Regions from separate parts of the Homo sapiens genome. Here region 2 is linked to region 1. The links come from fine-mapping of genetic effects on gene expression. A gene starts in region 1. The other region holds a variant in brackets. All regions are shown on one strand. Distances are from middle to middle. Region 1 holds the start of KIF27 (kinesin family member 27). Region 2 holds the start of LOC101927575 (a long non-coding RNA gene).

Region 1 (16,838 bases):
AGCTTGCAGTGAGCCGAGATTGCGCCACTGCACTCCAGACTGGGTGACAAAGCGAGACTCCATCTCAAAAAAAAAAAAAGTGTTGCTTTGTTTTTTAGAGGCAGCGTCTCACTCTGTCACCTAAGCTGGAGTGCAGTGGTTTGATCACTGCTCACTGCAGCCTCAACCTCCTGGGCTCAAGCAATTCCCCCACCTCAATCTCCCAAGTAGCTGGGATTACAGGCGTGCACCACCATGCCTGGCTAATTTTTATTTTTTGTAGAGATAGAGTCTCACTAGGTTGCCCAGGCTGGTCTCGAACTCCTGACCTCAAGTAATCCTCCTGCCTCAGCCTCCCAAAGCATGAGCCATTGTGCCCAGCCAAGGCTCAATAACTTTGACGAAGCCTGAGTCAAAGTGAGAAGAAACAAATAGGTCACAATGGTATTTAGAGAGAAGCCTAGAAATACTTTGAGAACCAAAAATAGTATTTTGAAAGCAAGTAAAAAAATATAAAAAAAACTATGAGTTCATAGTTACCCTCCTTCTACCACACACGTGCTCCAAAAAAAGAAACCGTATTGTTTGATTTTGAAGGTTGGTAGGGACCAATTTGTAATTCTGAAAATTGGTAAATAAAAAGGAAAAAAGCATTTATTCTGTTATTCCTGTACTAACTGCATTTCAGGATAATCTGATAGAGGAAAAGCTCTTCTTTATAGAACAATACCAGCTAATAAATGCAAAAAGGAATATTAGAACATTACCATTGTGCAATCCCTAACGAAATAATAGATATGGGAAATGATCCTCAATGGCTTCTAGGTAAAATGTTAATGAGGAACTTTTTTTTTTTTTTTTTTTTTCCCAGACAGAGTCTCCTTCTGTTGCCTAGGCTGGAAGTGCAGTGTGGTGCCATCTCGGCTCACTGCAACCTCCGCCTCCCAGGTTTAAGCAATTCTCTTGTCTCAGTCTCCTGAGTAGCTGGGACTACAGACATGTGCCACCACACCTGGCTAATTTTTGTATTTTTAGTAGAGATGGGGTTTCACCATGTTGGCCAGGCTGGTTTCGAACTCCTGACCTCAAGTGATCCACCCGCCTTGGCCTCCCAAGGTGCTGGGATTACAGGCATGAGCCACCATGCCCAGCCGATGAGGAACTTTTTAATGGATGGATTATACTGAAAAATATCTGTACTCATCTATAATCTTAACATCACCAAAAGCAGGATATGCAGACATTACATGCCTCCTGGTGTGTTGCAACAGGAAGTACATATGCCCATCTATGAATTATTCTTGCCAGAAGAATTGAACCTGAATCTAATCAAGAATCTAGATCTAACTTACTGGTTAACAGGAAATGTAGGAAACAGAGGAACAAGTTAAATGAAAATACAGTATATGATCAGCCAATTCTAAAGTGTGAGAAATCCTATAGGACAAATAGCAGCTTGCTTGCTTGCTTGCTTTCTTTCTTTCTTTCTTTCTTTCTTTCTTTCTTTCTTTCTTTCTTTCTTTCCTTTCTTTCTTTCTTTCTTTCTTTCTTTCTTTCTTTCTTTCTCTCCTTCTTTCTCTTCTTTCTTTCTTTCCTTCTCTCTCTGTCTGTCTCTTTCTTCTTTTAAGACTGGGTCTCGCTCTGTCACCCAGGCTGGAATACAGTGGCATGGTCACAGTTCACTGTGGCCTCAACCTTCTGGGCTCAATTGATCCTCTCACCCTCAGCCTCCCAAGTAGCTAGGACTACAGGCACATGCTACCACAATCAGCCAGTTTGTAAATAGTTTGTAAAGACAGGGTCTCCCCTTGTTGCCCAGGCTTGTCTCAAACTCCTGGCCTCAAGCCATCTTCCCGCGTCAGCCTCCCAAAGTGCTGGGATTACAGGCAAGAGCCACCACACCCGGCCTCTTCCACTTCTTAAAAGGACACTAATTCCATCATGGGGTTCAACCCTCATGACCTCATCTAAATCTAATTACCTCCTAAAGGCCCTACCTGTAAATACTATCACATTGGGATTTAGAGTTTCAACATGAATTTTGGGGAACACAAGCATTCAATCCATAGCAATAATCCCCAAAACTGAAAGTTTCTCAAAGAGATATTTATGCATACATGTTCACAGCAGCATAATTAACAATAGCCAAAAGGTGGAAGCAACCCAAGGGACCAACAGTGGATGAATGGATAAACAATTTGTGATACATACATACAATGGAATATTAATTCAGCCTCAAAAAGAAAGGAAATTCTGATATATGTAACAACATGGATGAAACTTGAGGACATCATACTATGTGAAATAGTCACAAAAGGACTAATACTCTATGATTCCACTTCTATAACCTAGAATAGTCAAATCCATAGAGACAGAAAGTAGCATGGTGGCTGCCAGGGGTCAGAGAAAGAAGGAAATAGTGAGTTATTGTTTAACGGGTGTAGAGTTTCAGTTCTCCAAGATGAAATGAGTTCTGGATATTGGCTGTACAACAATGTGAAGGTACTTAACCATTTTATGTATGTATGTATGCATGTATGTATGTATGTATTTTTGAGATGGAATCTTGCTCTGTCGCCCAGGCCGGAGTGCGGTGGCATGATCTCGGCTCACTGCAACCTCCGTCTCCCAGGTTCAAGTGATTCTCCTGCCTTCAGCCTCCTGAGTAGCTGGGATTACAGACATGCGCCACCATGTCCAGCTAATTTTGTATTTTTAGTAGAGATGGGGTTTCGCCATTTTGGCCACATAGTCTTGAACTCCTGACCTCAGGTGATCCACCCGCCTCGGCCTCCCAAAGTGCTGGGATTACAGTGTGAGCCACCACACCCAGCCAGTACTTAACAATTTTAAAGTGTACAGCTCAGTAGTGTTAAGATAGTCAATTTTATGTTATGTACATTTTACCACAATTTTTTTAAAGGTGAGGGTAATTGTTATTGATTAAAAGAGAATTAAGGTACATATCAATCAAATGCCATATATGGTCCATGTTTGGATCCTGATTGCAGCCAATCAGCTGTAACACAAACAACAAAACTTGAGATTCATTATATAGAATACTGCAGCTCTGCTCAGCTCAGCCTCTGGGGAGGTGTGTTGACTTTGTCATCTGACAGATGGAAGCTTCAGTCTTGCCTTTGTCACTTAACCATGTAGGCTTGAGCAAGTTACTTGTTTTCTGTTTTTAAATTTTTTTATTTCCATAAACATTCATTGACTCTCTGGGATGTGCTTATTATCTATTATGTATTAGACATTGACTGTGCTCAACAATAGAGACATAAGGCCGGGCGCAGTGGCTCACGCCTGTAATACCAGCACTTTGGGAGGCCGAGGTGGGCAGATCACGAGGTCAGGAGATCGAGACCATCCTGGCTAACACGGTGAAACCCCATCTCTACTAAAAATACAAAAACATTAGCTGGGCGTGGTGGTGGGTGCCTGTAGTCCCAGCTACTTGGGAGGCTGAGGCAGGAGAATGGCGTGAACCCGGGAGGCGGAGCTTGCAGCGAGCTGAGATTGTGCCACTGCGCTCCAGCCTGGGTGACACAGCAAGACTCCGTCTCAAACAAACAAACAAACAAACAAACAATAGAGATATAAAGATAAATAACAGGTTGGGCACAGTGAATCACACCTCTAATCCCAGCACTCTGGGAGGCCAAGGTGGGAAGGAAGGCTTGAGACCAGGAGTTCAATACCAGCCCAGGCAACATAGAGTGACCCTATCTCTACAAAAAATTCAATTAGACCGGGCGCAGTGGCTCACGCCTGCAATCCCAGAACTTTGGAAGGCCGAGGCAGGTGTATCCTGAGGTCAGGAGTTTGAGACCAGCCTGGCCAACATGCCAAAACCCCATCTCTACTAAAAATACTGGGCATGGTGGCGGGGGCCTATAACCCCAGCTACTCAGGAGGCTGAGGCAGGAGAATCACTTGAACCCAGGAGGTGGAGGTTGCAGTGAGCTGAGATCATGCCATTGCATTCCAGCCTGGGTGACAAGAGTGAAACTCTGTCTCAAAAAAACAAAAACAAACAAACAAAAAACAAATACAAAAAAAAATAAAATATTAGCCAGGCATGGTGGTGTGCACCTGTATCCTAGCTACTCTGGAGGCTGAAGTGGGAGGACCATTTGAGTCCAGGAGTTCAAGGTTACAATGACCTGTGATCAAACCACTACACTCCAGCCTGGACAACAGAGTAAGACCTTGTCTTTTAAAAAAGTCATAACGTTTAACTCCACCATCCAGAGATGATGGTGGTTATCATTTTAGTGAATTTTGTTGAAAATTTTTACATCTTATGATTTTTTATTTTAGTCTTAAAAATTATTTTATTTTACAGACAGGGTCTTGCTCTGTCACTCAGGCTGGAGTACAGTGGCTCAATCATAGCTCACAGCAGCCTCCCACGCTTGGGCTCAAGCAATTCTTCTGCCTTAGCCTCCTAGGTAGCTGGCACTACAGGTGCAAGCCACTATGCCCAACTAATTGTTTTTTTTTTTTTTTTTTTCTTTCTTTCTTTCTCTTTCTTTCTTTCTTTCTTTCTTTCTTTCTTTCTTTCTTTCTTTCTTTCTTTTCTTTCTTTCTTTCTTTCTTTCTTTCTTTCTTTCTTCTTTTTCTTTTTTTTTTTTTTTTTTTTGAGAAGGGATTCACACTGTGTTGCCCAGGCTGGTCTTGAACTCCTGTCCTCAACTGATCCTACTGCCTCGGCCTCCCAAAGTGCTGGGATTGCAGAAATGACCCACTACACCTTTGGCTTTCTTCTAATCTTCTGCCTTCTAGGTCCACATGGTCAACCTATGGTTTTGTCCAGCACCAGACTGGACAAATGTGTAAGTTAGCAATGCAGACATCATTGAAGATTTTGCAGGGGAGACAGAGGAAGGGGTTTGAATTGCACACTTCACAGCAGGAACATAAAGGCCACCACTGGGTGGGCGCGGTGTTTCACGCCTGGAATCCCAGCACTTTGGGAGGCCGAGGCAGGCAGATCATGAGGTCAGGAGTTCGAGACTAGCCTGACCAACATGGTGATACCCCGTCTCTATTAAAAATACAAAAATTAGCCAGGAGTGGAGGCGCTTGCCTGTAATCCCAGCTACTCAGGAGGCTGAGGTGGCAGAATCGCTTGAAACCGGGAGGCAGAGGTTGCAGTGAGCTGAGATTGTGCCATTGCACTCCAGCCTGGGTGACAGAGCGAGACTCTGTCTCAGTCAATCAATCAATAAATGCCTCCGTTAGCCATTCCCAGTGTCCCTGGGATTCCCTTATCAGTTATTCTCTGCCTCCTCTCTGCTTCAGCTTCTCCCAACACCACCCCCTTCCCCCATCTTCCTCATTCCTTCTCAAGAGCAGTCAAATAATTCTTCCCCTTGTCTCATATGAGCAACACCACCCTCCTCTCTGAAGCTTGGGTACCAACCAAATCAGGCTTCCAAGGCTTATCTTCCACCTAGGGGCAGGCTAGCAAAGCATCTTCTCAGCAAAACTTTGTCTGTCCACATATAGATTTCCCATTCCAGCTGTTAAGGAATAGTATTCTCCATGCCATCACAGGAAGGCTTTAGGCAAAGGACAGACAGTGAGATTCATGTCCTAGATAGATCAGTGTAGAAGGTGTGGAGGGTGGATTTGTAAGTGCAAGACTGGAGACAGGGGGACTAGTTGGTAGGCTGTTGCAGTAGTCTAGGTGAGTGATTGTGAAATCTTGAACTAGAGTAGAAAGGATTTGAAATATTCAGATGTAAAACAAGCAGAATTTGGTGATTAGAATAGGGAATGGGGTGGAGGCGGGGAGGAAATAAAGGTAGCCTCCAATGAATCCTGCCTCCTAGTATTCATACTTTCATGCAACCTGTCTCCTGAATGTGGGATAGACCCAGTGACTTGCTTCTAATGAACAGAATGTGGCAAAGGTGATGGGATATCCTGTCTACAATCAAGTTATAAGTGACTCTGACTTCTCTTTTGCTGATTTTCTTTCCATGGCTCATCTTACATGCTCAATGTGATGCAGAGGGCCACCTGTTCAAGGAACTAAGGGGAAGGAACTGAGGGCAGCCTCTGGCTAATAGCCAGCAGGAATGTGTCCCTCAGTCCAACAACCCTCAAGAACTACCACCAAACACTATAGAAGCTTGGAAACAGATTCTGCCAGTTGACCCTGAAATGTTCGTGGCCCTGACTGACACCTTGATTGCAACCTTGTGACAGCCCTGAAGCAGAGGATCTAGCTAACCCATGCTCAGATTTCTGACCTATAGAAGCTACGACATAAGAATTTTTTTTTTTTTTTTTGAGATGGAGTCCTGCTCTGTTGCCAGGCTGGAGTGCAGTGGTGCAAACTTGGCTCACTGCAACCTCCGCCTCCGGGGTTCAAGCAATTATCTGCCTCAGCCTCCCAAGTAGCTGGGATTACAGGCATCTGCCACCACACCCAGCTAATTTTTGTATTTGTAGTAGAGACGGGGTTTCACCATGTTGGCCAGGATGGTCTTGAACTCCTGACCTTGTGATCCGCCCACCTCGGCCTCCCAAAGTGCTGAGATTACAGGTATGAGCCACCGAGCCCGGCCAAGAAATTTGTTTTAAGCCACTAAGATCTGAAGAAATAGTTCAGCAATAGATAAATAAGGTAATAGGTGTATAATAGTGTTTAGTAGATGAAAATGTCATTTTTCATCCATTTTCAGCCAGATTGTTACCTTAGACCAGAATATTTCAAATTGCAGGCTGCAATCCATTAGTAGGTCATGAAATCAATTTAAAGGGTTGTAATCAACATTAAGAAAAATTGGGCTGGGTATGGTTGCTCATGCCTGTAATCCCAGCATTTTGGGAGGCCAGGGCAGCAGGATCACTTGAGGCTAGGAGTTCAAGACCAGCCTGGGCAACACAGCAAGAATCCATCTCTACAAAAAAATAAAAAATTAGCTGAGCATGGTGGCCGGTGCCTGTATTCCCAGATACTTGGGAGGCTGAGGTGGGAGGATTGCTTGAGCCTGGAAGGTTGAGGCTGCAGTGAGTCATGATTGCACCACTGTACTCAGCCAGGGTGACAGAGTGAGACCTTGTCTCAAAAAAAAAAAAAAAATTGAAGTAGAATAGGGCCAGGCATGGTGGCTCACTCCTGTAATTCCAGCACTTTGGGAGGCTGAGATGGGAGGATCACTTGAGGCCAGGAGTTCGAGACCAGTCTGGTCAACATAGCAAGATCCTGTCTCTAAAAAAAAGAAAAGTAGAATAGAATAAAATAAAATACATAGAACATTGCACTTAGTAAAGGTAAGTATTGTTTCCCAAAACTTTTGTTTTCATTCATTTATTTATTATTTATTTATTTATTTATTTATTTATTTATTGAGATGGAGTCTCGCTCTGTCGCCAGGCTGGGGTACAGTGGTGCAATCTCGGCTCACTGCAACCTCTGCCTCCAGGATTCAAGTGATTCTCCTGCCTCAGCCTCCCGAGTAGCTGGGATTACAGGCTCGTGCCACCACACCCAGCTAATTTTTGTATTTTTATTTTTATTATTTTATTTATTTTTTTTTGAGACGGACTCTCGCTCTGTTTCCCAGGCTGGAGTGCAGTGGCATGATTTTGGCTCACTGCAACCTCTGCCTCCCGGTTTCAAGTGATTCTTCTGCCTCAGCCTCCCGAGTAGCTGGGACTACAGGCACGCACCACCACACCCGGCTAATTTTTGTATTTTTAGTAGAGAGGGGTTTCACCATGTTGGCCAGGCTGGTCTCGAACTCCTGACCTCAAGTGATCCACCTGCCTTGGCCTCCCAAAGTGCTGGGATTACAGGCATGAGCCACTGTGCCTGGCCTTGTTTTCATTTATACACATACCTGTGTATTGAGTCATGATGTCAAGGGAATTTCTGATAGTGGCTCAGTATCAATCAAATTCGAAAGCCAGTGTCCTGGGCTTGCTTTTCAGATTGGGGTGATGGATTATTTCCTAGTCTTCCAAGGTTCCCCTCATGATTGGTGGAGATTGTGGTTGCCCAATTTGACCATAGGGCCAAGCAAATCCACCTGGCACCAGTTGACAGGACCCAAGCAGTATGTTTCCTTAGGAAAGCTAACATTCTCTGCACTAAGTTAAGGAGCCAAAGGCAAAATGATGGCACAGAAACCACCCCTCCCCCTTTTTTTTTCTCAGACGGAGTCTCACTCTGTCACCCAGGCTGGAGTGCAATGGCATGGTCTCGGGTCACTGCAATCTCCGCCTCCTGGGTTCAAGCGATTCTCCCACCTCAGCCTCCTGAGTAGCTGGGACTACAGGGCCATGCCACCATGCCCGGCTAATTTTTGTATTTTTAGCAGAGACGGGGTTTCACTATGTTGGCCAGGCTGGTCTCGAACTCCTGACCTCATGATCCGCCCGCCTCAGCCTCCCAAAGTGCTGGGATTACAGGCGTGCACCACCGCCCACCCCCATTTTTAAAGAAACCCCATTTTTAAAGTATAAAGCTTCTTTTCTCCCCGCCAGAGAAATTAAGGGAATTCATCAAACATTATAGCAACATTAAAAGAATTTAAAGTGGGAGAAGAGGTATGATCTGTGGTTTCCTTAATACTTCCTTTAATACTTCCTTTCTTTCCTGGATCCAGCTTTTCTCAAAATATGGGTGAGGGAAGATGATTTAGGCGAAAAGGGCACATATTTCTTTATTTAATTTGGTCTAGCTGTAATCTTCTGTTTGTTACTGCTTTTCTGGTAAAGTGGACTGGGCATGGATGTTTTTCTCTGTAGGACAAGCAGCCCAAAGCTGGTCTCCCATGGGACATATGCAGAGTTCTTCAGTGGACCTGAAAGATACAGTTCCCTTAAGGAGAAGACCTAGTTCCCTTAAGAAGATCCAGCACTGGCTCAATTACTTCTGCTAATCCCAAGCCCAGCTCCTCCCACTGCCTCTTACTGATGGGGACTTATCTGCAGGAGACAGTCCTCAAGACAATCTTCATGGGGCTCAAGCTTGGGTACCCTCCAAAGGATCCCCTGGACCATGAGCAAATCACAGCTTCTCCCCCTGCTAAACTGCAGGAACACAGACTGCTCTACTACAGCAACATCTCAGTTGCTTCGCTCCATTCTTGAGAAGAAGATCAGCTCACTTCTTCCCCTAGTTGCTCCCACCAGAAGGCCAGGTTTCCTCTTCTAGCACATCACACAGGGTTTGCCCGTCACTCTTAGAGCCTCCTTTGACTTAGGTGGGAGGCCTCTTACTCTCCAACCCACAAGGCCCAAGACCCCTTGACTCCACTGCCGAGTCTTTCTTACAGATACTTAAAAAAGAGATAGGATTGGAATTTGAATGGAATTAGCTTAGTCCTGCTATAAATCCTAGGGAGGAGGGGTTGGCAATGACTGGCATTCACTTCACAGTGTGGGGAACTTAAGTAACTCCTTTTCTCTAACTCTGGACTCAAGACATCAATTTGGGGACAATGGAAAATGCCCCATTCTAATGCTGTTGGGCATTTGCTGACCTCCTCTCTGCAATTGTGTGGCCTCTTGAGAACTTCTGTTGAGACTTCTGGGTATTCCTAGACTTAAATTGTTACGTACTATTAATTATTGAAGTTTTGTCAGCAGACCAGTCTGACTTACCAATTCACAGTCATGATGTGAGTTTTTGTTTGTTTTCAAAGAGTTCTAAAAATGCAACTTGGCCCTATAGTCAAATTGGGCAACCACAATCTCCACCAATCATGAGGGGAACCTTGGAAGACTAGGAAATAATCCATCACCCCAATCTGAAAAGCAAGCCCAGGACACTGGCTTTCGCATTTGATTGATACTGAGCCACTATCAGACATTCCCTTGACATCATGACTCAATACACAGGTATGTGTATAAATGAAATCTTAGAATTTTAAAAATTATGTATTATTTATTATTTTTTTGAGGTAGAGTCTCATTCTGTCACCCAGGCTGCAATGCCATGGTGCAACAACAGCTCACTGCAGCCTTGACCTCCCAGGCTCAAACCATTCTCTCACCTCCACCTCCAGAGTAACTGGAACTGCAGGCATACTCAGCCACACCTGGCTAAGTTTTGATTTTTTGTAGGGATGGGGGGTCTCATTATGTTGCCCAGGCTGGTCTCAAACTCCTGGGCTCAAGTGACCCTCCCAGTTCAGCCTCCCAAAGTGCTGAGATTACAGGTGTGAGCCACTGTGCCCAGACTGAATTTTTAAAATTTTAAATAATTCAGTTAAAAGAAAAAAAAATAAAAACTATAAATAAAATAGTCAGCTTTTTTCCCCCACCTTCATTCCTATATTTCATGAGAGAAGGAAGGGTTTTTGAAGATGCTTAGATTGTGCTACTAAAAACAGGAGGCATTAAAGCATTTAAAACTAAATTGGTAAAGTTAAATATTACCATACGACCCAGCAATTCCACTCTTACGTCCATACCTAAAAGACCTGAAAACAGGCTCGGCGCGGTGGCTCACGCCTATAATCCCAGCACTTTGGGAGGCCAAGGTGGGCGGATCACCTGAGGTCGGGAGTTCGAGCCCAGCCTGACCAACATGGTGAAACCCCGTCTCTACTAAAAATACAGAAAACTTAGCCAGGCGTGGTGGTGGCACATGCCTGTAATCCCAGCTACTCCAGAGGCTGAGGCAGGAGAATTGCTTGAACCCATGAGGCGGAGCTTGCAGTGAGTTGAGATAGCGCCACTGCACTCCAGCCTGGGCAACAGAGCGAGACTCCATCTCAAAAAAAAAAAAGGAACTGAAAACAGACATCCAAATATTGTATGTGAATGTCCATAGCAGCATGGAAACAGCCCAAATGTCCACCACCAGCTGAAGAATGGATAAACAAAATGTGGTATGTCTATATCCATACAATGGAATTTTTTCAGCCCTAAAAAGTCCTGATAGGGCCGGGCAGGGTGGCTCATGCCTGTAATCCCAGCTACTCCGGAGGCTGAGGCAGGAGAATCGCTTGAACCCATGAGGTGGAGGTTGCGTTGAGCCTAGATGGCGCCATTGCATTCCAGCCTGGGCAATAAGAGCGAAACTCCATCTAAAGGGCCGGGCGTGGTGGCTCACGCCTGTAATCCCAGCACTTTGGAAGGCCGAGGCGGGCAGATCACGAGGTCAGGAGATCAAGACCATCCTGGCTAACACAGTGAAACAAACCCCGTCTCTACTAAAAATACAAAAAATTAGCCGGGCGTGGTGGCACGCGCCTGTAATCCCAGCTACTCGGGAGGCTAAGGCAGGAGAATCGCTTGAACCCGGGAGGTGGAGGTTGCAGAGAGCCGAGATCACGCCACTGCACTCCAGCTTGGGCGACAGAGCGCGACTCGGTCTCAAAAAAAAGAAAAGAAAAAAAAGAAAAGAAGTCCTGATAGATGTTACAACATGACTGCATCTTGAAAACATTAAGCAAAAGAAGCTAGACACAAAAGGTCATATACTGAATGATTCCATCAATAAAGAAATGCCCAGAATAGGTAAAGCTATCACAGAGTCAGAAAGTAGATTAGTGGCTGGCTGGGGTTGTGGGGAGAGGGGAACCAGAAGGAATGACTGCTAACTGGTTTGGGGATTTTCTTTTGGGGTTATGAAAATGTTTCTGAACTATATACAGAGGTGATGGTTGCACAACACTGTGAATGCATTAAACGCCACTGAATTGTGAGTTTTAAGATGGTTTATGTTAGGCAAGTTTTACTCAATAAAAATAAAAATAAACTGAATTGGTAGCTAAGATATTGAAACACGGTGTGGAATCGTTCTCACTCATTTCACGAACCCGTAGAAAGATGCTTGCGCTCAGGCCTCACAGACCGGTCCCAGCGCGTTGGTGGGACACAACTCGGATTTGCAGGCAAGCCCAGGGGCCGGCCCTTTGCGGACTTCCTGGGGACGCAGGACTCCTGCGCGGCGGGCTTGGAGGCGTGGCCAGGATGGGGGCGGGGCCAGGACGCGGCATCCAGGAGAGGACGCGGCGGGAGGCGGGCTTCGCCGGTTGCCAGGAGAACTCGCGACAACAAAAGACGCGGACGGCGGCTGCGCGGTGTGGCAGAGCGAAGCTGAGGAGTCCAGCGCTCGCCGACAGGGGCCTGGGCTGTCCCGAGCCGGTCAGTGCTCGGCGGGCCTGGCGGGCGGTGCGGGGAAGTGGGGCGCCCTCCCTTCGCGGTGCCCGCCCTCCAGCCCGCCGCGCCCGCCGCTCCCGCGCCCCCAGCCGGCCGTTGGGACTAGTAGGCTCCGGCTTGGGGTCGGGGCCGCCGCGGGTGGGTAGCGGAGGGTGGGCGGTTGGGGCGCCAGCTAGGCCTATGGGGGCGTCCGAGGGGTCTGGGGTCGGGGCTGGGAGCCGGCGAGCGACTAGAGGCAGAGCGCCCCTTCCGGAGGAAGTTGGGTCAGCCCTGAGGAGCGGGTCCCGGGGAACACCGATCGACCGGAACGCGGGACCCGGCCTTTCAGAGCGCACCCTGTGTTCGTCTCGTGTCGCTGCACGGCGTGAGGTGCGACGCGAGGGCCACCACCACCGAGCGCTTTGTTTTATCGCAGGCGTCTTTTTCCCACCGTAGAGGTTGAAACTTGGGCGCATTTCCCACCGTAGAGGTTGAAACTTGGGCGCATTTCCCACCGTAGAGGTTGAAACTTGGGCGCATTTCCTACCGTAGAGGTTGAACCTTGGGCACATTCAAGCCCGAGAGCTCCCTCCCTCGGAGGCAGGTGACTATAAAGAGCAAAGCGCCCAGATTCTTTCTTTGAAACACCTTTTAAGTAACACCTTTTAAGTCTCCAGTGTTGAAAATCCTTGTTGTTTGCCCTTCTTTACTCTTTTGTCGTCTTTACGCATTTGGGGCCTTTTCTGAGCTCCGTATGCGATTTACTGTCCATCTACTGGCAAGTTTTTTATGAAAATAATTAACAAACCACACATTTAAGACAACCACTGCTTTCTGGGAAATCAAGGGTACGGGATGGCAACGGTTTTTGGAGACACTCATTCCTGACCAGTGACATGACATGAGGGATTCAATATTTCTCTTGCCTTTGCTCAGATTTCAAAAACCCGTTGAGTATACTTAAATACGACCAATCAGATTTTGCTTTTTTTTAAATCATTTATTGGCAACATAATACGTATGTTTCTGATGACTATAATTGATCAGAATCTGAAGTATAAGTGCTATGGATTGTGTAAAAACTTTATTTCTTGTATATTGATGTTTTACAAGCCCTATGTTTGTGGACCATTACTATTGTTTGTTTGTTTTGTTTTGAGACAGGGTCTCGCTCTGTTACTCAGGCTGGAGTGCAGTGGCACACTGCAGCCTCAACCTCCCGGGCTCAAGCGATCCTCCAATCTCAGCCTCCCAAGTAGCTGGGACTACAGGTGCGTCACCACAGCCTGGCACATTCTTGTATTTTTAGTAGAGACAGGGTTTCACCATGTTGCCCAGGCTGGTCTGGAACTCGTGGGCTGAAGCGATCCACCTGCCTTGGCCTCCCAAAGTGCTGGGATTACAGGTGTGAACCACTGTGCCCGGCCCCATTATTATTTTTTTTAATGCTTAGAATAAGTTTCAGTTGCCTTTATAACCAAATTCTTTATAGATATTACCATTAAAAACCCCAAGAAATGAGGCTGGGCATCGTGGCTCACATTTGTTTTGTTTTGTTTTCAGGAGGGATCCTCTCGCTTCAGCCTTCTGAGTAGCTGGGATTACAGGCGCACGCCACCATGCCTGCCTAATTTTTGTATTTTTAGTAGAGACAGGGTTTCTCCATGTTGCCCAGGCTGGTCTCGAACTCCTGGGCTCAAGTGATCCACCCGCCCTGGCCTCCCAAAGTGCTGGGATTACAGATGTGAACCACCGTGCTGGGCCATGGTTTTTTTTTTTTCAAGGGTAGTGAATATTATCAATTCATTGTTGTTAGTGTTATTAATAAAATATTATTTCAGTCTAGTTGTCTGTGTTACTTAATGGTAATCTTCAAGACTCAGCAGCTTTTCCAAAGAACCTAACCTCACCTCAAATTCATTACTTTTCATCATCTGCACTCAAACATTGTCATAGATTACTTGTTAAATTTTGTATAAGCTTTATCCTTCCAAAACTGAACATTTGTATGTAAGTTTTTATGCGAACACAATGTTTTCATTTCTCTTGGGAGTGGAATTGCTGGATCATTTGATGGAGTGGAATTGCTGGGTCAAGAGATAACTGTATGTTTAACTTTTTGCAGAAATGTCAGTCTGTTTTCCAAAGTGGCTATACCATTTTACCTTCCCACAAATAGTGTATGAGGGTTCTAATTTCTTTATACCCTGCCAACACTTATGATCTGTCTTTTTTATTATAGCAGTGCTAGTGGATGTGGATTGGTATCTCATTGTGGTTGTTGTTTGTTTGTTTGTTTGTTTGAGACAGTCTTGGTGTATCGCCCAGGATGGAGTGCAGTGGTTCGATCTCAGCTCACTGCAACCTCTGCCTCCTGGGTTCAAGCGATTCTCCTGCCTCAGCTTCCCTAGTAGCTGGGATTATAGGCGCCCACCACCATGCCCGTCTAATTTTTGTATTTTTAGTAAGGACGGGGTTTCACCATGTTGTTCAGGCTGGTCTCGAACTCCTGACCTCAGGTGATCCTCCCACCTCGGCCTCCCAAAATGCTGGGATTACAGGTTTGAGCCACTGCGCCTGGCTAATTTTTGTATTTTAGGTAGCAATGGGGTTACACCATGTTGTCCAGGCTGGTCTTGAACTCCTGACCTCAGGTCATCCTCCCACCTCAGTCTCCTAAAATTCTGGGATTACAGGCATGAACCACTGTGCACCTGGCCTCTCATTGTGATTTTGATTGCATTTTCCTGATAGCTAATGATGGTGAGCATCTTTTCATGTGCTCATTATTCATTTGTATATCTTCTTTGAAGAACTGCCTTTTCGGATGCTTTGCCTATTTAAAATTTTTAAAAAACTTTTTGAGTTATAATATTTATATATTCTAGTTGCAAGTTCCTTGTTAGATATATGTCTTGCAAATATTTTCTCCCATTCAGTGAGTTGTCTTTTCACTTTCTTGGTAGTTTCCTTCGAGGCACAAAGTTTTTAATTTTGATGTCGTTTTTCCTTCCCTCCCTCCCTCCTCTCCCTCCCTGTCCTGCCCCCCCCCCATTTCTCTCGTTCTCTCTTTCTCTCTCTCTTTGAGACAAGTTCTTGCTCTGCTGTCCACATTATAGTGTTGTCCACGTTATAGTGCAGTGGTGCAGATACAGCTCACTGTAACCTCTGGCTGCTGGGTTCAAGCCAATCTCCCGCCTTAGCTTCCCAAGTAGCTGAGACCACAGGTGCGTACTACCATGCTGAGCTGATTGAAAAAAAAAATTTCTTTGTAGACATGGCGTCTCACTATATTGCCCAGGCTGGGTCTTACTTATTTTTTAATCTATACTTCATCTTTATTTTTTGCTTTTATTATTATTTTTGTTTGACAAAATCATTGTACATATTTATGGGGTACAGTGTGATTTTTCAGTACATGTATACAATGTATAATGTTCAAATTGGTATTTTTTATTTTATTGCTTTTGGTGTCATATCTGAGAAATTATTGCCAAATCCAAGGTCATAAAGAGTTACTCCTGTCTTTTAAGAGTTTTGTAGTTTTACTTCTTATGTTTAGGTCTATGGTCCATTTTTGGTTAACTTTTGTATATGATATGAGGTAGGGAGTCCAACTTCATTATTTTATCCATTGTCCCAGTGCCATTTGTTGAAAAGAGTATTCTTATACTTCAGTTGAATTGTCTTGGCATCTTTGTTGAAAATCACTTGCCCATGAATGTGAGGGTTTATTTCTGGATTCTCAATTCTATTCTGTTGATCTATATGTCTGTCTTTATGCCAGTACCACACTATCATGATTACTGTTGTTTGGTTTTGAAATTAGGAAAGTGTGAGTCCTCTTACTTTGTTCTTTTTCAATATTGTTTTGGTTATTCTCTGTCTCTTGAGTTTTTCTGTGATTTTAGGATCAGCTTGTCAATTTCTGCAACTAAGTCAGCTGACATTTTGATAGGTATTGCATTGAGTCTGTAGATAATTTGGGGAATACTGACATATTAATATATCTTTCAATTCATAAACATGAGATGTTTTTTCATTTACATCTTGTGCTTTCTTCTAACAGTATTTTATAGTTTTCAGACTATATGTTTTACACATCTTTTGTTAAATTTATTTCTAAGTATTTTATTCTTTTTGATGCTATTGTAAATGGAATTGTTTTTTACATTTATTTTTAAGAGTGTTCTGCCACAGGAAGGGGAACATCACACATTGGGGCTTGTTGTGGGGTGGGGGAAGGGGGGAGGGATAGCATTAGGAGATATACCTAATGTAAATGACAAGTTAATGGGTGCAGCACACCAACATGGCACATGTATACATATGTAACAAACCTGCACGTTGTGCACATGTACCCTAGAACTTAAAGTATAATAAAATATATATATTTAAAAAAAAAAGAGTGTTCTGTCGTGCGCGGTGGCTCACGCCTGTAATCCCAGCCCTTTGGGAGGCCAAGACAGGCGCATCACGAGGTCAGGAGATCGAGACCGTCCTGGCTAACACGGTGAAACCCCATGTCTACTAAAAATAGAAAAAATTAGCCAGGCATAGTGGCGGGTGCCTGTAGTCCCAGCTACTCTGGAGGCTGAGGCAGGAGAATGGTGTGAACCCGGGAGGTGGAGCTTGCAGTGAGCCCAGATCGCGCCACTGCACTCCAGCCTGAGCGACAGAGCGAGACTCCGTCTCAAAAAAAAAAAAAAAAAAAGTGTTCATTGTAAATGTAGTTACCAATT
Region 2 (16,838 bases), 130 kb before region 1:
GTATTCTAATTAAAAAGGAGAAAAGGATGATTATTTAAAAAGCATAAAGCTTCTTAGAAACCTCAGTTTCTGGCATTTATTTGAAGGTTTCTACTCTCCCCACATATAATGTATCTGAGCAATTTAGAACTATATCTAACAGGCTCCACTTCACATCTACTCTTGCAAGAAAACGGTTTCATGCAAAATGTGAAAATTGCAGCCGGAGCCATTATGTAAGCTACTTAACCTATAGTAGGGGAGGTCTACATGCTATATGTTGCTCTGGATTGTCATGGAAAAAAAAGGTTCAAAAGAAAATAAGGATTATGTTCTGAGGCTGTTTTTCCCTGAGGCTCTTTAAACAATGCCTCTATCTGTTCCCCATTTTCCAATTGTCTTTTCCAGAGATGTGGCAATAATTTAGTTGTATTATGTGCTGTCACTTCTGCATTAATAAACACCAGGACCTGCTGAGTAATTACAGAATAACCTCATAATAAAATGCAGTGAAGAGCTCTAATTAAATGTTAATGTTGCTTAAAACTATCCTACTTTAAAATGAAAATTTTCCATCCATGTATCCTAATGAGTTATCAGAATGCATTACTCCCAAATAAAATGTACAAACGAGAAGGTAAACATAAAATATTACCACCAGTAGGCATGTGTGTGGAAACATTTATAATCAAAATTAATATACTACATTAAAATTACTGAAATATAAATGCATACCAAAATGCTGTAACAACAATGGGGGAAGATTTTTATGAAAGCTCATGCTTCACTTTGAAAGGGAAAAATGCCAAATTATTCTTCAGTCACGTAGTAGGCAATAGAGGTTAAAGCTACTTCTGAACATGGGACTAACACAAGTTAAACTAAGAACATCTACAACTTCTATAAAATAATAGAGCTAAAAGAAAACTCACTGTCTAATTGAAGAAACAAGGACTTCCATTTACTTTATTCTTTAAAATCTGCCAAGAAGGGGTTCCCCTCCCATATTATGTTGCTCTGCTTCTTCACCCACACATCATCCTTCTGGGCATTTAGTGTGCTGACCTAGGTAGACATGGTGAAAATCTATTACTCATAGGTATCTATATAAACCCATTACTCTTTTTGTTTTTTGTTTTTTTTTTTTTTGAGATGGAGTCTCACTCTGTCACCCAGGCTGGAGTGCAGTGGCACAATCTTGGTTCACTGCAACCTCCGCCTCCCATGTTCCAGCGATTCTCCTGCCTCAACCTCCCAAGTAGCTGGGATTACAGACGCCCACCACCACACCCAGCTAATTTTTTATCGTTTTGGTAGAGATGGGGTTTCACCACATTGGCCAGGCTGGTCTCAAACTCCTGACCCCAAGTGATCCACCCACCTCGGCCTCCCAAAGTGCTAGGATTACAGGCGTGAGCCACTGTGCCCCGCCCAACCCATTTCAATTTTCATATCACAGGAAGAAAGTCACAATCATTCCTCCTTCCTTTACATTGCCGGAATAAACAAGTCAATCCATTTAGTCTTTGGAAAAGACCTATCCCCCAACTCTTCTGCCATTATCTGCTGAAATCTGCTATACATTCATCTCACATTTCTGTCAAACCACTTATACTGCTACTTCTCATAGGCCTAATTAATATTCTTTCATGTAATCAGTCTTAAAATACAATCACAAACCTAGTATAGTATTACCTAAAGAATTCTGCAATATGTATTCCTGTTTTGTACTTCCTGTTAGCTTACTCTTTTTCTCCAAGATGAAAAACTAAGAAAAGTTTTATCATTGACAAATTTGAAATCTTTGTTTCCATTACCAGGCTCTTGCGTTATTAGGGATATGTGCCCACTTCAGTGACCTGAGTCCTGGATATCTCCCACACTTGACCTTCCAAGAAGTGGAATCCCTCACACCCACTTATAATACAAGCTGTTGATGCTGCTATTGATAAAGATATTTGTTTACTGCTGACTGTGATGAGATATGTTGGGACCTTTTCTTCCCAGTTTACACCAAATACATAGAAGAGGTGACTTTTCCTAGCGTTCCTCAGATTCTCTTTGGCCATGGCTATGTCTCTTTGGAACAAGACTAGATGCTCTAAGAACTTCTGCTGAACAGCTTGTACAGCCCGAGAGGAGAAGGAGGGAAGGCAAGGAGACATCCAGGGCCTGGCTGAGACATCTCATGTTCTCTCCCATCCCTGGGAACTTCCCATCTGTGTGCAGGGGATTGTCTGTGTCATGAAGAACCAACATGGCACTGACCACCAATCAGTCACCAGACACCACAAAGAGTTGTCGGCAAATGGCGAGACCTCCCCTGCTGCCCCTTGGAGAACAGGAAATAGAGTCACTCGGCAGTTTTCAGGAGGATAATACTTCAGGACACAAGCTTTGGAGTCAGACAGACTTGAGTTTGCATCTCAGTTCTGATGCTTGCTAGTTGTGCCCCCTTGAGCAGTTTGCTTAATCTCTCTGAGCCTCCATTTCATCATCTATGCATTGAGAATAATGCTCACCTCACAAGATTATTATGAGAAATAGGTGAGCAATATATGACAAGCACTTGGCATGCTGAGTGATTCAAGTATTTAATTAGTGGAAGCTGCTATTATTACTACTACCGCCTCTATTAATGGTGTCTTTCCCCGCAAGTAGCAACACCTCCTGGCTTCTATAGTAACACTGATGTTCTTACCTTGAAAAACTTTCAAGTCATCTTGGCCTCTCCCTCAGTCCCCACATCCAAAGTCACCAGGTCTTATCAATCCATCCTCTCCTTTGCATCTCCATTGCCACTCCTCTAGTTTATAGCTTCACTAACTCTCACCTTGACCTTCACTCAGTAAATGTCTATTAAAGCACCTACTGTGTGCTGGGCATGGTGTAAAATACACACATGTAAAATATCTCAAAATATGTATAATCTGGTGGTATGGCAAGGAAATACAGACATTTAGACAGGTAACCAGAATGCAAGGCCAAATGAAACAGCATGGAATATTTAGAAAGGTTTCACATACATATGATTCAACAACAACAAAAAAGATGTACAGGAAGGTTTCACAGAGGCATTGCCCCTTGAGGGGAAACTTGAACAATTAATAAAAAGAAGAAAAAAAAGGCATTACAGTCTGAGAAAACAGCATGAGCAAACACAAGACCTCAAGAATTATGTCACGTGGAGAAAATGCTGAGTTATACAGTGGGACCAGAGTGGGTGGGGAGGACAGAGCCACAGCTGAAGTCGGAAGCAGTCAGTCAGGGGAGTGGAGTGCTTCCAATTCCCCTTCAATGTGGATTCCTCCTGCCTCAAGGTGGATTCCCCTTAAAAGTCTGCCTCCTCCCCTAAAGGCTGTACAGCTATAGACAAAGTACTTACCTTCCCTGAGACTCATTTGTAAAATGCAGACAACAAAATACCTACTTCATGCTGTTCTTGAGGGGATTAAATGAAATAATGTAGGTAAAGAACTTTACACAATGCCTAGACTATAGTAGGCACTTCACAGATGGTAGTTACTGTTTTCCTAGGAAGCTGTCATGGACTGAATGTTTGTGTTTCACAAAAATGTGTATGTCAAAGCACTAACCCACAGTCTGGCTCTATTTGGAGATGGGGCCTCTATGGAACTAAGGTTAAATGAGGTCATAGGGTGTGACCCTGGAGTCTTGATTCAAAAGGATTAGCCTTTATAGAAAGAAACACCAGAGAGCTTGCTCTCTCTCTCCATGAGCACCACCAAGTAAAGGCCACATAAGCACACAGTAAGAAGGTGGCCATTTGCAAGCCATCTGCCCTCACCAGAAACTGAACTGGCCAGAACCTTGAACTTCTAGCCTCCATAACTGTGAGGAAATAAATTTCTGTTGTTTAAGCCCCAAGTCTATGGTATTTTATTATGGCAGCTCAAGCTGACTAGTACGGAGGCCTTGAATGGCATTTTAAGGGGTTTATTCTTTATTTTGTGGACAATGGAGATGCCTTAAACATTTCTGAGAAGGCAAGAATTAACATTTATATCTGACTATCTGAGAGTTGAAGAGTAATGGGGATGTCCTCTTTACTGACCTCCTGCACCCTGCCCCTGCCTCTTCCCATCCATTCATGACAACCAGTCTATGATTAATATCTCCAATATGGCTCAGATGAGCTGCTCAAAATGTTGGCCTATAGAATACAGCCTGGATCCCTTAGTTTGGCATTCAAGCTGGGAAGATCAGACCCTGGCTTTTGCCACATTTGTGTCTTTGCTCAAACTGTTCCTTCCACCAATAATATTATTTCCTACTGTTTTCAGACAGAATCCAATTTATCCTTTAAGACCAATGCCCATGCCACTTGTCTTATGATGTCTCCTCTCCACTGAACCCCTACCGTTTATGCCTCTAGCATGTCACGGTGGTCAACCTCTCTATTCTAAATAATGTTGTTTATAGCTCCTCTAGTAGACTGTAATGACCTGAGGTCAATTTTTGTGGCTTTCACATTACATGGCACAGAAAAGAATTTGAAGGAGGTATGAGGGAAAATCTATAAAGCAGGAGAGAAAAACATTAGGCTTACATAGGAGAGAGACAGTCTGGAAGAGAAGAGGGTTTTTGAGAGCAAAAACTCTTATTGAAAGGAGAATTAGAGTCACTTGATGTGGGTGTGCATTGTGAAACAGATGAATTTCCCTGCACCCCAATTCCCTACAGAGTCTCCATCTCCATTATACTCCCATACACGTGAATTCTCTGAAATTCCCATGAGATACTAGATGGGAAAGATGGTTATTGGGTGACAATAATCATAATCATAGTTAACATCTGTTGAAGACATACCTGGTGCCTGGCGCTGGGCTACAGTACAGGTTTTCAGTATTCCATATGTTATGTTCTTTTTTAGTCCTGAAATGCCTGTCTTTCTGTTGATATAATGTGGCCATTTAAGTGTTCTTTTCATCTGAAATTTTATTCAGAGATTTATCCAGAGGATTATATGCTGCATTAAAACAATGAGTTCAGTCAGGGAGCATTCATTTAGAAAGTTTCTAACCCTATCCCTCCTCTGTTTAAGACTAATATTAAGACCCTTACTTAAGACTCAGGCACTTACATCACTGTAGTTTTAATTCCAACTTTCTGGCTTACTAATGAGGAAAAACAACTTTTATTTTGATTTTGAAAACATCTATTAAATCCCTATAAAATATCTTGGTTTTTTTAAAAATACATCTGAGATAATCTTTCCCTACACATATTTTAAAAACCTTAAAACCTTTTCCTTTTTTTAAAATGTTTTATTTCCATACGTTTTGGGGGGAATGGGTGATGTTTGGTTACATAAGTTCTTTGCTGGTGATTTGTGAGATTCTGGTGCACTTATCTCCAGAGCAGTATACACTGAACCCACTTTGTAGTCTTTTATCCCTCACTCCCTTTCCACCCTTTCCCCTGAGTCACCAAAGTCCATTGTATCATTCTTATGCCTTTGCATCCTCATAGCTTAGTTCCCACTTATGAGTGAGAACATACGATGGACAAACAACTTTTTTATGTCATTAGTCATTTCTATATTTGCACCCCAGTCTATCAGAGTCACTGGTGAAAACTGGCAAAGGGTGAAGGAGAACTCAGAGAGGAAGAGGCTAGGTGCCCAGGATTAATCCCAGCCCTTGGCATGGAGCCTGCCTGCCTCCTTTTTCCCAGGACCCAGTTCTGTCTCCTTCCCTCCCCTCTATTCCTCCAAGGCCAGCCCCAACCTTTCCTAAGATTTTTATTTTATCTAAAAACTTCCCAATAATTCTACTTGGAGATACTTAAGCCAGGAGGACAAAGGATACACAGTCACAAGCCTGGCGTACTCGCAAGTGAAACAACACCCAGAGACAAAATTTATTTTTAAATAAAATATGGAGATTTCTGGTTACATGAAATAAATATACAAATTACCAGTATTCTCAATGGGCTTCGATGTGTGCAGTTAGTAGCCATGCCCTTTGCTGAGAACTCTACTTGCATTATCTATGTCAGTCCTCATGGAGGGGGGTGCTGAATAATTACTATCTATCTCCTTTAGCAATGGGAAGGGTAGGAAGTTACCCTGGGTAGATGGCGCAGGACACTGAGAGTCCTGTTTTAATTTTGACACAAGGAAAAGAGATTTTGCTATATGCCCTCAGCTAGCTTAGGTAGGAAAGGGAGAATCTCCCTTCTTATTTTAATCAATATGTGACTGATTTAAAGGAGCCTCAGAGGCCTTTAGCACTAACAAGGCCCAATCTCTAGGAATTTAAGAATGACAGTGAGTCTGGCACTGTGAGGAGCCTGATGCATGATACCACCGGGGCGCTGAAAGAACACGGCTTATATCACATCTCACACCCTGCCTAGAGAAAGCCACTTTTATTCTAGGCCAAATTCCAAAGTGAAACTGGCAATGGATTTGTTATAATGTTAAAGTTAAATAAAATTGTTCCCAGTAATACAATCACTTTCCTGCTTTTGAAATCTTTATTGTTTGTTATTACAAAAGCAAATAAAACACACAGAGACTGTTGCTGTGCACACCTGCAGTTCTTATTGCAAGCTCCCCCAACCCTCCCTGAGGGCTTTCTCTAGCAGCAGAAATTAGCTCACTACTGTGCAGGGCAGGCAGGTGCTGCCAGGCTGTAAGCCAATCCCTGTTCCCCCCATAACGAATGGGAGATGGAGGGTAAATTGCCCCTCGGGTGGGACAACCTGAGGTGTGTTCTACACAGTTTTCAGAGGCCCCCAGTGGAATGCAGATCCAGTTGCCCCCAGCAGTGACCTGCTCTGAAGTAGTTTCCTTCCTTTCCCTCTCCCTTCACCTCTGTCATCAGGGCTTCCTGGGATCACCTCCCAAATAAACTACTTCTGCATAAATCACTATATACATCTGAGAAAGCCCAACTCAAGACAATTGCTGTAGTTTGAATATATATACATACATATATATATATGTATGTATATATATATAGTTTGTTTGTTTGTTTGTTTGTTTTGGAGATGAAATCTCACTCTGTCGCCCAGGCTGGAGTGCAGTGGTGCGATCTCGGCTTACTGCAACCTCCACCTCCTGGGTTCAAGCTATTCTCCTCCCTCAGCCTCCCGAGTAGCTGGGACTACAGGCATGTGCCACCCCACCAGGCTAGTTTTTTTTATTTTTAGCAGAGAAGGGGTTTCACCCTATTGGCCAGGCTGGTCTCAACTCCTGACCTTGTGATCCGCCCAACTCGGCCTCCCAAAGTGCTGGGATTACAGGCATGAGCCACCACACCTGGCCCAGTAGTTTGAATATTTATCCCCTCCAAAAGTCATGTTGAAACTTAATCCCCAATGTGGCAGTATTGAGATAGGGCCTTTAAGAGGTGATTGGATCATAAGGGCTCTGCCCTCATAAGTGGATTAATCCATTCATGGATGAATGGGTTAAAGGGTCAATGAATATATGGGTTACCATGGGAGTGGAATGGGTTGCTTTATAAGAAGAGGAAGAGGGACCTGAGCTCACACATTCACACGCTCATCCCTCTTGCTGTGTGATACCCTGCCCTGCCTCAGTTCAGAGTCCCCATCAGCAAGAAGTTTCTTACCAGATGTGGCCCCTCGCCCTGGGACTTCATAGCCTCCGTAACTGGAAGAAATAAATTTCTTTTCTTTATAAATTACCCAGTCCGTTTTCCATTGTTATAAGCAACATAACAATGCCCATATATGAGTTTGCTGAGGCTGCAATACCAGAGTACCACAGACTGGGTGGCTTAAACAACAGAAATTTATTTTCTCACAATTCCAGAGGCTGGAAGTCCAAGATCAAAGTGGCAGCAGGGTTATTTCTTCTGAGGCCTCACTCCTTGGCTTATAGATGGCCATCTTCTCCCCTTGTGTTTACACAGCCTTTCCTCTATTGTGTCTTTGTCCTCATCTACTCCTCTTATAAGGACACCAGTCATATTGCATTAGGGTCCACCTATATGACCTTATTTTACCTTAATTATGTGTAAAGACTCTTTCTCCAAATACAATCACATTCTGAGGTACTGGGATTAGAACTTCAGCATAGGAATTTGGGTGGGAACACAATGCTGCCCCTAAGAGCCCAGTATAATCAAAACAAAGTTATATCAAATATTTATTGAAAACACATGCTTGTGTTGACTTCACCCAGCCAGTGAATGAGTCAAGCCTGGTAGGCTGTGGTGGGATGTTTGCTCTGAATCTGCATAGGCTTGTCTTCCAGAGACACATTTATATTCTGATACTATAAAGCAACCATCAGCATTAAGGGAATTGCCCAGTTAGGAATTTAGCATAGATTAATCCAGGCTCCTTCATTCTAACTATTTCTACTGCCCTCTAGGGTGACCAACTCATCTTGGTTTGTCTGGGACTGTCCCGATTTTAGCAATGAAAGTCCTGCATTTCAGTACTTTTTCCGGGGCACAGCAGGATGGTTGATTATCCTTAGTCTCTCATATTTGAGAAATGCGGGGATTTGGGGGAATCAGGAGTAGATAGAAAGAGAGAGAACAGATGACCATTTTGTTTGTCAGGCTGGGTTGGATTGGATGACTTCTGAAATTGTTTCCCGTTTCATTAGTATGAAGAAACAAAGATGTTATCAACTCCTTGGATATTTACCTCTGAAATTCAGTAGTTGGTGAGAAGGTGAGACCAAACAT[G/T]ATAAAAATAATAACTCTAGCAATATTCCAAGAGAAGCTGAAAGGAAGGTGAGAGAGCAGATAACTCCTTGGGAAAAGGTGTCCTCACACTTCCAGACAGAAGAGATCCTCTCTTCTTCTCCTGCCTCACTCACACACTCATGCTCCTCTCTGATTTCCGGTTATACTGGAAATCATCTGTTAGACTTGTCTGCATGCTTCTTTTTCCTACTAGATACCAAGTTCCTTGAGAGACTGGGTCTTATTCATCATTGAAGACCCTGGCACCAAACAGGTATAAATAATTACCTTTTTTCTTCGTATATTTTATTCACAATACATTGTGCTCCCAAAACCAGCATTACCTCCAGTGGGTATCAGGAGTGCCTGGAAAAGAACATTATTGAATGGGTGATCTCTTCCATAATAATCAAACTAATCCTATTACTGATAGAATTACTGATTAACAGTGCCCTTTCACCCCTTGAAGCTTAGTATTTGTGATAGATCTACACTGTGTCTTTCCATTTGATTCATGCAAGATCTACATTATTAGATTGTAGCCATTTCTCAGCCAAGAGTAATTCTGTTGCTTCAAGCTATACATCTATTCTAATAGATAGAGGTGTTTTTTGTTTTTGTTTTTTACCCAATCTTGTCTGAGGTTTTCCATTGTTTTTGCTAGATAAGTCCAACATTTATTAAGTACCCACTGAATATTTTGCATGAATACCATTGATTTATTCAAAAAAATTGTGTCGGATATTTTAGGACTAATTACAGTGGCAGTGTGGTATTATACAGAATCTCTGCCTTCAAGCAATGTCTGATCTATTGAAGGAAATGAGACATATATACATGAAAAAATAACTGATTGTGGATCTTATGTAAAGCAGTAAATTTAATGTGCCAAATGAGTAACATAGAAAATAAATTCCCTGAATTATAATTATTTTGTTTGTGTTGCCAATTATACTGTGAGTATATTGAGAATATATTATTTTATAACCTCAATACCTGCTTTTAAGAAGACATCTGATTTTTAACAAGTTTCCAAGGTGATTCTTCTTTTTTTTTTTAGACAGAGTCTCCCTTTGTCACCCAGCCTGGAGTGCAGCAGTTTGATCTTGGCTCACTGCAACCTCCGCCTCCCAGTCTCAAGCAATCCACCCCCTCAGCAGCCTCCTGAGTAGCTAGGACTACAGGTGCATGCCACCGTGCCCGGCTAATTTTTGTATTTTTTGTAGAGACAGGGTTCACCATGTTGCCCAAGCTGGTCTCAAAGTCCTGAGCTAAAACAATCCACCCACCTCAGCCTTCCAAAGTGTTGGGATTACAGGCGTGAGCCACCACACCCAGCCTTCCCATGTGATTCTAATTATGCTGAAGTTTAAGAATCACTACTGTGGACAATAGGAAGAGATTAAAGAATTTGGGCAATAACATGGCATGATAGAGATATTTGATGAAGATTCATCTGGTGGAGTGCAAGATAGAGCAGAGCATGGAGAAACTGAAGATAGAGGAGACAGAAAGAAAGCTGACTGCATTTTTCCATGCATGAGATAATAACACCGGAACATTAGGAATAGTATGAAGGAAAGATCGGGTAGGCATGGAAAACATTGAGAAGGAGGAATCGCTGAACTTGGTGACTGAGTGTTAAAGAAGAAGAGGGGGAATGAAAAATAATTTCAACATCTTTAACTTTAAAAACTGGAATAATAATAACAGTAACAGCTAACATATATTAATCACTGTGGCAGTCACTGTGGCCTGGCTGCCTCTACAACCATGCCCAACTCTCTTCTCTTATTACAGAAGCTGGAAAACTAGATCGTCACTTTCTTAGCCTCCTTCAAAGTCACGGGAGGACATGTGACTTAGTCCTGGCAATAAGATGTAGGGAGAAATCTTTTGGAAGGCTCCTGGGAACTGGGAAAGCTTTTGCTTTCCTGATGCAAGAGACAGTCGATGCCACCCCTGCCTTTTCCCCTTCATTTTGCCTTGATCCCTGGAGCTGCAGCAGCCTGGTGACCTGTGATAGCCATGAAGATGAAAAGCTGACATGGGAAAGATGGCAGAAGGGAAAGAGAAAAAGACATGCAGTCTTTGGTGGCACCACTGAACTGCTGCAGCAAGGCTGGAACTTCCCACCTCCAGAATTCTACTTATATAAGATAATTATGAGCCAGATGTGGTGGCTCATGCCTGTAATCCCAGCACTTTGGGAGGCCAAGGCAGGTGGATCACCTAAGGTCAGGAGTTTGAGACGAGCCTGACCAATATGGTGAAACCCCATCTCTACTATGTTGTGGCATGAGCCTGTAGTCCCAGCTACTCGGGAAGGCTGAGACAGAAGAATTGCTTGAACTAGGGAGACGGAGGTTGCAGTGAGCCAAGATTGCACCACTGCACTCCAGCCTGGGTGACAGAGGGAGACTCCGTCTCAAAAAAAAAAAAAAAAAAAAAGATAATTAAATGTATTTATTGCCTAAGCTATTATTAATTGGTGTTCTGTTACTTGCAGCCTAATACAACCAAACTGATACAAGCACTGACTACATTCCAGGCATTGGTCTAAACATTTAATTCAATGCTTACAACAACTTGATGAGGGATGTGTTATTATTACAAAGAGGAGGTAAGGAGGCACCAGGAAGTCAAATAACTTATCCAAGTCCACATACCTAGTAAATAGCACAGCAGGGATTTAAAACCCAGCAGTCAGCCTCCAAAGCCCTCAATTGTAATCACTATATATACAGTTTCTCAATAATCGTGATAGCACAGATAGAAAATAAGGAGTTGGGAACAGGTGTTAATGGCTGGAAATCTGAGTAGAAATATTCATCAAGGAGTTAGAAATGCCAAGTCTGAGGCAAAAGAATATAAAGGATATTATTTAGAATAAGGAGCCATCTGCATTAAAATAAGAGTTTATTTAGAGCCTACAGCGGTTCCAAATCCTCCTTATCTACAAGGTGAGATGAATAGAACCATAAATATATAGCATGGCCTGAATACTCTTTTGTTGACAAAATGCCTTTGACTATCCAAAAACTGGCTCCCTTGTTACTGCAAACGTTTAAATTCTGGCCTGTGAATACAGTAACATCATTTAAAGGAATGCTGTGAAGTGGGGTCCAAGGCTGCTCTCCACTCCTGGCTGCCAGGGAAGATTTTTGGCTACGCATAGCAATTCTCCATTGTAAGCCAATGCCAAACATAGCGTCAATCTTCCAGCCAGCTGCCAGTTTGCAAGGCCATGGTGACCCAGCAAAGCTACCCAGAATCTGAAGTGGGCTTCCAGGGCTGTTGACCATTCTATCACCTTCAACATCAGGGCAGCCTGTCCTCAGAAATGAGAACGGATGCTGTTTACCTTTATTCCACTGGTATTCCGAGTAAAAAGTGAGGACCAAAAAGCGAGAGGGAGGGGGAAACAGATAACATTAATTCCAAATAATAAAAATAATGGTAATAAGCTTGCCGTTTTTGAGCACTGACCCTGTGCCAGGCTCTGTGTGGAGTGAATGCCTTTCACGGATTATCTCACTTGAAGCAAATTAATCTTGTGTCTGCTTCTATTTTAACAGACTCACAAGGTCTGTCGCCCAGGCTGGAGTACAGTGGCGCGATCTGGGCTCACTGCAAGCTCCGCCTCCCGGGTTCACGCCATTCTCCTGCCTCAGCCTCCAGAGTAGCTGGGACTTACAGGCGCCCGCCACCACGCCCGGCTAATTTTTTTGTATTTTTTTGGTAGAGACGGGTTTTCGCCATATTAGCCAGGATGGTCTCGATCTCCTGACCTCGTGATCCGCCCGCCTCAGCCTCCCAAAGTGCTGGGATTACAGGCGTGAGCCACCATGCCCGGCCCAGACTCACAAGGTTTCTAAAGAAAATCGTGGTTAATCACTGAAGATACTGTGGCATTTGCCAATTATTGTTGTCGTTGTTGGCTTGCTTGGGGTTTTGTTTGTTTTGTCTTCTTTATTCAAAGGCCTAACAAAGGTCAGCTGGAATATTCCACTGATGCCCATGGACACTGCAATAATTTTCAAACAAGGCTGACAACCAGAGCAATAGATCAGTCCTGTGGAAAACAGATTGGCCTACCTGGGAGAACTGAGAGGGCAATATATGAAAAAGAAACATCTATGAACTTCCTATCACCAACTTTGTCAGGTTGGTATTTACATAGTTCTAGAAATGGGGCCAGTGTAATCCTTATTAATGCAATACAAGGATATAAATGCTCAGTGGCATTGGAAAAGAACTTAAAAAGGGAAAGATGTCTACACTACAGTCCTGGTATTGGTTAGAATGTTTTGTACTTTCCTTGGTGATGAGCTGCAATTAACCCAGTTCTGATCTGGACGTGCTGATCTTCATCACAAATCACCGATGACACTGGAACAATTTCACTGTCATTAAATGCTTAAATGATGTTACAATCACCTAAACAACTAAAGTACACAAATTAAAGCTTTAATTTATAATCCTTTTGCAAAAGCACTCCTGTTAGAATTTAATTTAAGATTTCTGTAGACTCACACTCTAAGTCCAATCATTACAATTAATCCAATCTCTCTAATCAAGGATGCATGTCTTTACTTACTCTCCCTAAAAGTAATGAAGATTATAAATGAATGAATTTCATTACTGTTCATGATTTTGGTCAATTGTTCTCAGTTTCTCAGTCTCAGGTCATTTCTCTCTGGGAGGCTATTTGAAAGATAAACAACTCTATATTTAGATACTACCAACGACAATAACAACAACAACAAAAGACAAAAAATACACATCAGGCTTATTGCAGAGATAAGAATGAGACAAGCCGAGTCATCATTGAAGTGGTCAGCAGTCCAAGGCCACTCATCTTTCATAATCAGCAGCTGTGAAGGGCTTTGCCAAAGGGCAAGGGGTAAGAATCGCTCACGGCCTCAGAGAAGTGGTTCCCTTGCATTAGTGGCTAAATCCAGACAGACCAGAATAAAACCCGCCGGTGAATCTGATCCAGTATTTAAAAGTGCACAAGCAGGAAAGTACTTAGCAAGTCCCTTCATAATTCTGCAAAAGTTTATTCTTTGTCCCAAAAGAAAATGAGGAAGTGTATTCCCCCCTCCTAGACTTTAAACTCAGGATAAAGAGATACTCCTAGCGGAGTATCTGGTGCATGATGGGAGATTAGTAAATGTTTGTTGAAACTAAAATTAACTAGCATGTCCTATCATTGAATCTGCATAACAGCTTGACAGAGTAGGTATTGTTGTCCTATTCTGTAATAAAATTGAGGAATTAAGAAAGATCAGTTTGGTAACTTGTTAACAAGGAATGAAGCCAGGACTCAAACTCAGGTCTTTCTGGCTCCAAAGTTAGTGTTCTTTTCATTATGTCATGCTGCTGCAAAACACCTGCTTTGCTAACTTAAGACCCTTTCTGTTTCTTTTCTAATTATACAATGCACAACACTCTTCTATAAATGTAAAGCCCCCTTCTATTCCAATCTCCTTATTCTCTGCAGATGATCTCATTGTTCCTTTATTCAAAATGTGGTGGTGCTTCTTCTACATTAACATCACTTCCTGTCTCTTCCCTATCTTTGCTTCCTTCACTGCTGTCCCAGATTAAAAAGTGACCTTCCTCTATTTCAAGGTGAAAGCCCCTCTTTATGGCTCTTAATCTCCCCAGTCTGACCACATTTTAATACTTCTTCATTCTTTCTTCTGTGACTTCTTCCTGCCAGTGTATAAATGGTTTGATGTGCTTCCCATCTTAAAATACACACACACACACACACACACATACACACACACACACACACACACACACCCCACCTCCACTCACCAGGCTATCCCTTGAACTACATTCCTGTCCTTCCCTCCTTCCCTTCACTACCAAGTTTCTTTTTCACAGCCTTCATCTTCTAACCATCTCATCATGTACAGAAAATACTCTCTTGATAACAATTGAAAAATCAGATCTACAGATTTTCTTAGTTTTCATTCTCCTCAGATTCTCTGCAGCAAGCCACTACCACCAATTCTCATTTCTTCACGTGATCTTCTCCCATGATTTGTATAAAGCTGTTCACTCTCAGATCTGCCTCTCATTCTCTGACTCCTCTTTCCTCTTCTGACCCCAGAGGTAATTGATGCCTTTGGTTATACCCAGAGCCCATTTCTTCCCTCCACATTCTCTCCTTTGGGTATTTTACTCAGTCTTTTATAACAATCTTCAGTTTTGACTAGTGCTCCAGTCCACATTTCCAACTCCTGTTAGATATTTCCATCTGCCTGTTTCCTACTGACACCCCAAACTCACTATGCTCAAAATATAGTCATAATCTTTTTTCATACATATTTATTACATTGTAAATACTATTATCTCAGTCATTATGGAAAAAAATTACCATGTTAAGGTTGCAGTGTTCAATGCTACAAAGGCCAAATATTAATCATAGAGGCCTAATAGTCAAATAGAACTCATTTTTTCTTTTGTTTAAAGATTATTTTCCAAAATTAATGCATTTTTCCAAAAGTAATGCATATGCTAAAAAGAATAATTCAAAAAATACAAAATAGTATATTACATACGTAAAAAGTAGGTTGTCTTCATCCCTGAACACCTTAAATCGAATTCCCTTCCTCAGAAGCAGTATTATTGGTTTTATCAGTGTTATCAGTTTGCTATAGAAAATGTGCCAGAAATATTCCGTGTATTTTCAAGTATATATGTATAGATGCCTGTCTTAGTTCATTTTCTGTTGCTTATAACAGAATACCTAAACCTCGGTAATTTAAAAAGAAAAGAAATATATTCCTGGCCAGGCACAGTGGCTCATGCCTGTAATCCCAACACTTTGGGAGGCCCAGGTGGGCAGATCACCTGAGGTCAGGAGTTCGAGACCAGTCTAGCCAACACGGTGAAACCCCATGTCTACTAAAAATACAAAAATTAGCCAGACATGGTGGCGGGCACCTGTAATCCCAGCTACTTGGGAGGATGAGGCAAGAGAATCACTTGAACCTGGGAGGCAGAGGTTGCAGTGAGCCAAGATCATGCCACTGCACTCCAGCCTGGGTGACAGAGCAAGATTCTGTCAAAAGAAAGAAAGAGAGAGAGAAAGAGAGAAAGATAAAGGATTGGATTCCTTCCAGTTATGGAGGATGAGAAGTCCAAGGTAGTGTGGCTGCATCTGATGAGGGCCTTCTTGCTGGTAAGGACCCTCTGTAGAGTTCCAAGGTGGCACAGGGCATCCCATGGCAAGGGGACCAAACATGCTAGCTCAGGTCTCTCTTCCTCTTATAAAGCCACCAGTCCTACTCTCATGATAACCCATAAATCCATTAATTATTTGACTTTCTCATTAGGGGGATAAGGGAGTCAGGGGAAATGTAGTGGGAGGACAAGCAGGAGTGGAACAGTCTTGGATTTTGCTAATGAGGGCTACCTGGAATAGTGTGAAGACCTCTGCAGAAAGATGCTAAAGATGTACGAATATATGTCCAAGGGATACTGAGATACTGAGGTCATCATAAGTGACCAGCCAAAGGAAGTCATTCAACCCTGTCAAGGCACCTGCAGGTGGAGATCCCCAGCAATGTATCTCTGAAGAAACCACTAAGGTGCCCCAAGGAAGTCTGATCACTACTAAATTCAGACAGACTCAGCCTAATACCTTCAAAGTCCAGGGAATAACAGTTGAGACCTTTCCTATTCCTTGCCTCTTTAACCTTGGATGTGTCAGATATCATAACTACTGGGAGCAGGGAGTAAGAGGAGGTACAGCCCAAACTAAACTAATTTTACCTGATGCATAAGCATAAACCCTCAACAAATTATTGCACGTGTGCCCCAAGACTTGTACAAGGAGGTCCATAGCAACAACATTTGTAAAAGCAAAATATGGAAACAATCTATCTGCATGTCCACGGATACATGGATCCAGAAGATATGATCTTTTCCTATAATGAAATATTATGCAGCAAAACAAATCAAGTATAGCTACATACATCAACATGGATGAATCTCAAGAATATAATGTTTAGGAGGAAGGAAAGAAGGAAACAGACACAAACTGTACAATTCCATTTATATAAAGTTCAAAAACATGCAGCACTGAACAACATATTCTTTAAGAACATATACAGACTGGGCCGGGCGCATTGGCTCACGCCTGTA

Evidence for each region.
Region 2: its variant is fine-mapped to the expression of KIF27 in whole blood (INTERVAL, PIP above 0.99).

What each region holds. Positions count from the first base shown.
Region 1 is chr9:83,916,635-83,933,472 of GRCh38, reverse strand. It overlaps KIF27 (kinesin family member 27), which reads left to right and starts at 12,041. Exons shown (of 18, transcript NM_017576.4): 1 at 12,041-12,102. LOC105376335 (serine/arginine repetitive matrix protein 1-like) reads right to left here and starts at 12,572. Exons shown (of 3, transcript XM_011519284.2): 1 at 12,212-12,572; 2 at 11,775-12,119; 3 at 8,588-8,807. The coding sequence starts at 12,572. The coding sequence ends at 8,671. RefSeq lists enhancers at 10,641-11,145, 11,760-12,509 and silencers at 11,879-12,028, 12,059-12,438.
Region 2 is chr9:84,051,501-84,068,338 of GRCh38, reverse strand. LOC101927575 (a long non-coding RNA gene) reads right to left here and starts at 4,896. Exons shown (of 9, transcript NR_110995.1): 1 at 4,810-4,896; 2 at 912-1,044. The variant G/T (reference allele first, on the strand shown) is at 8,673.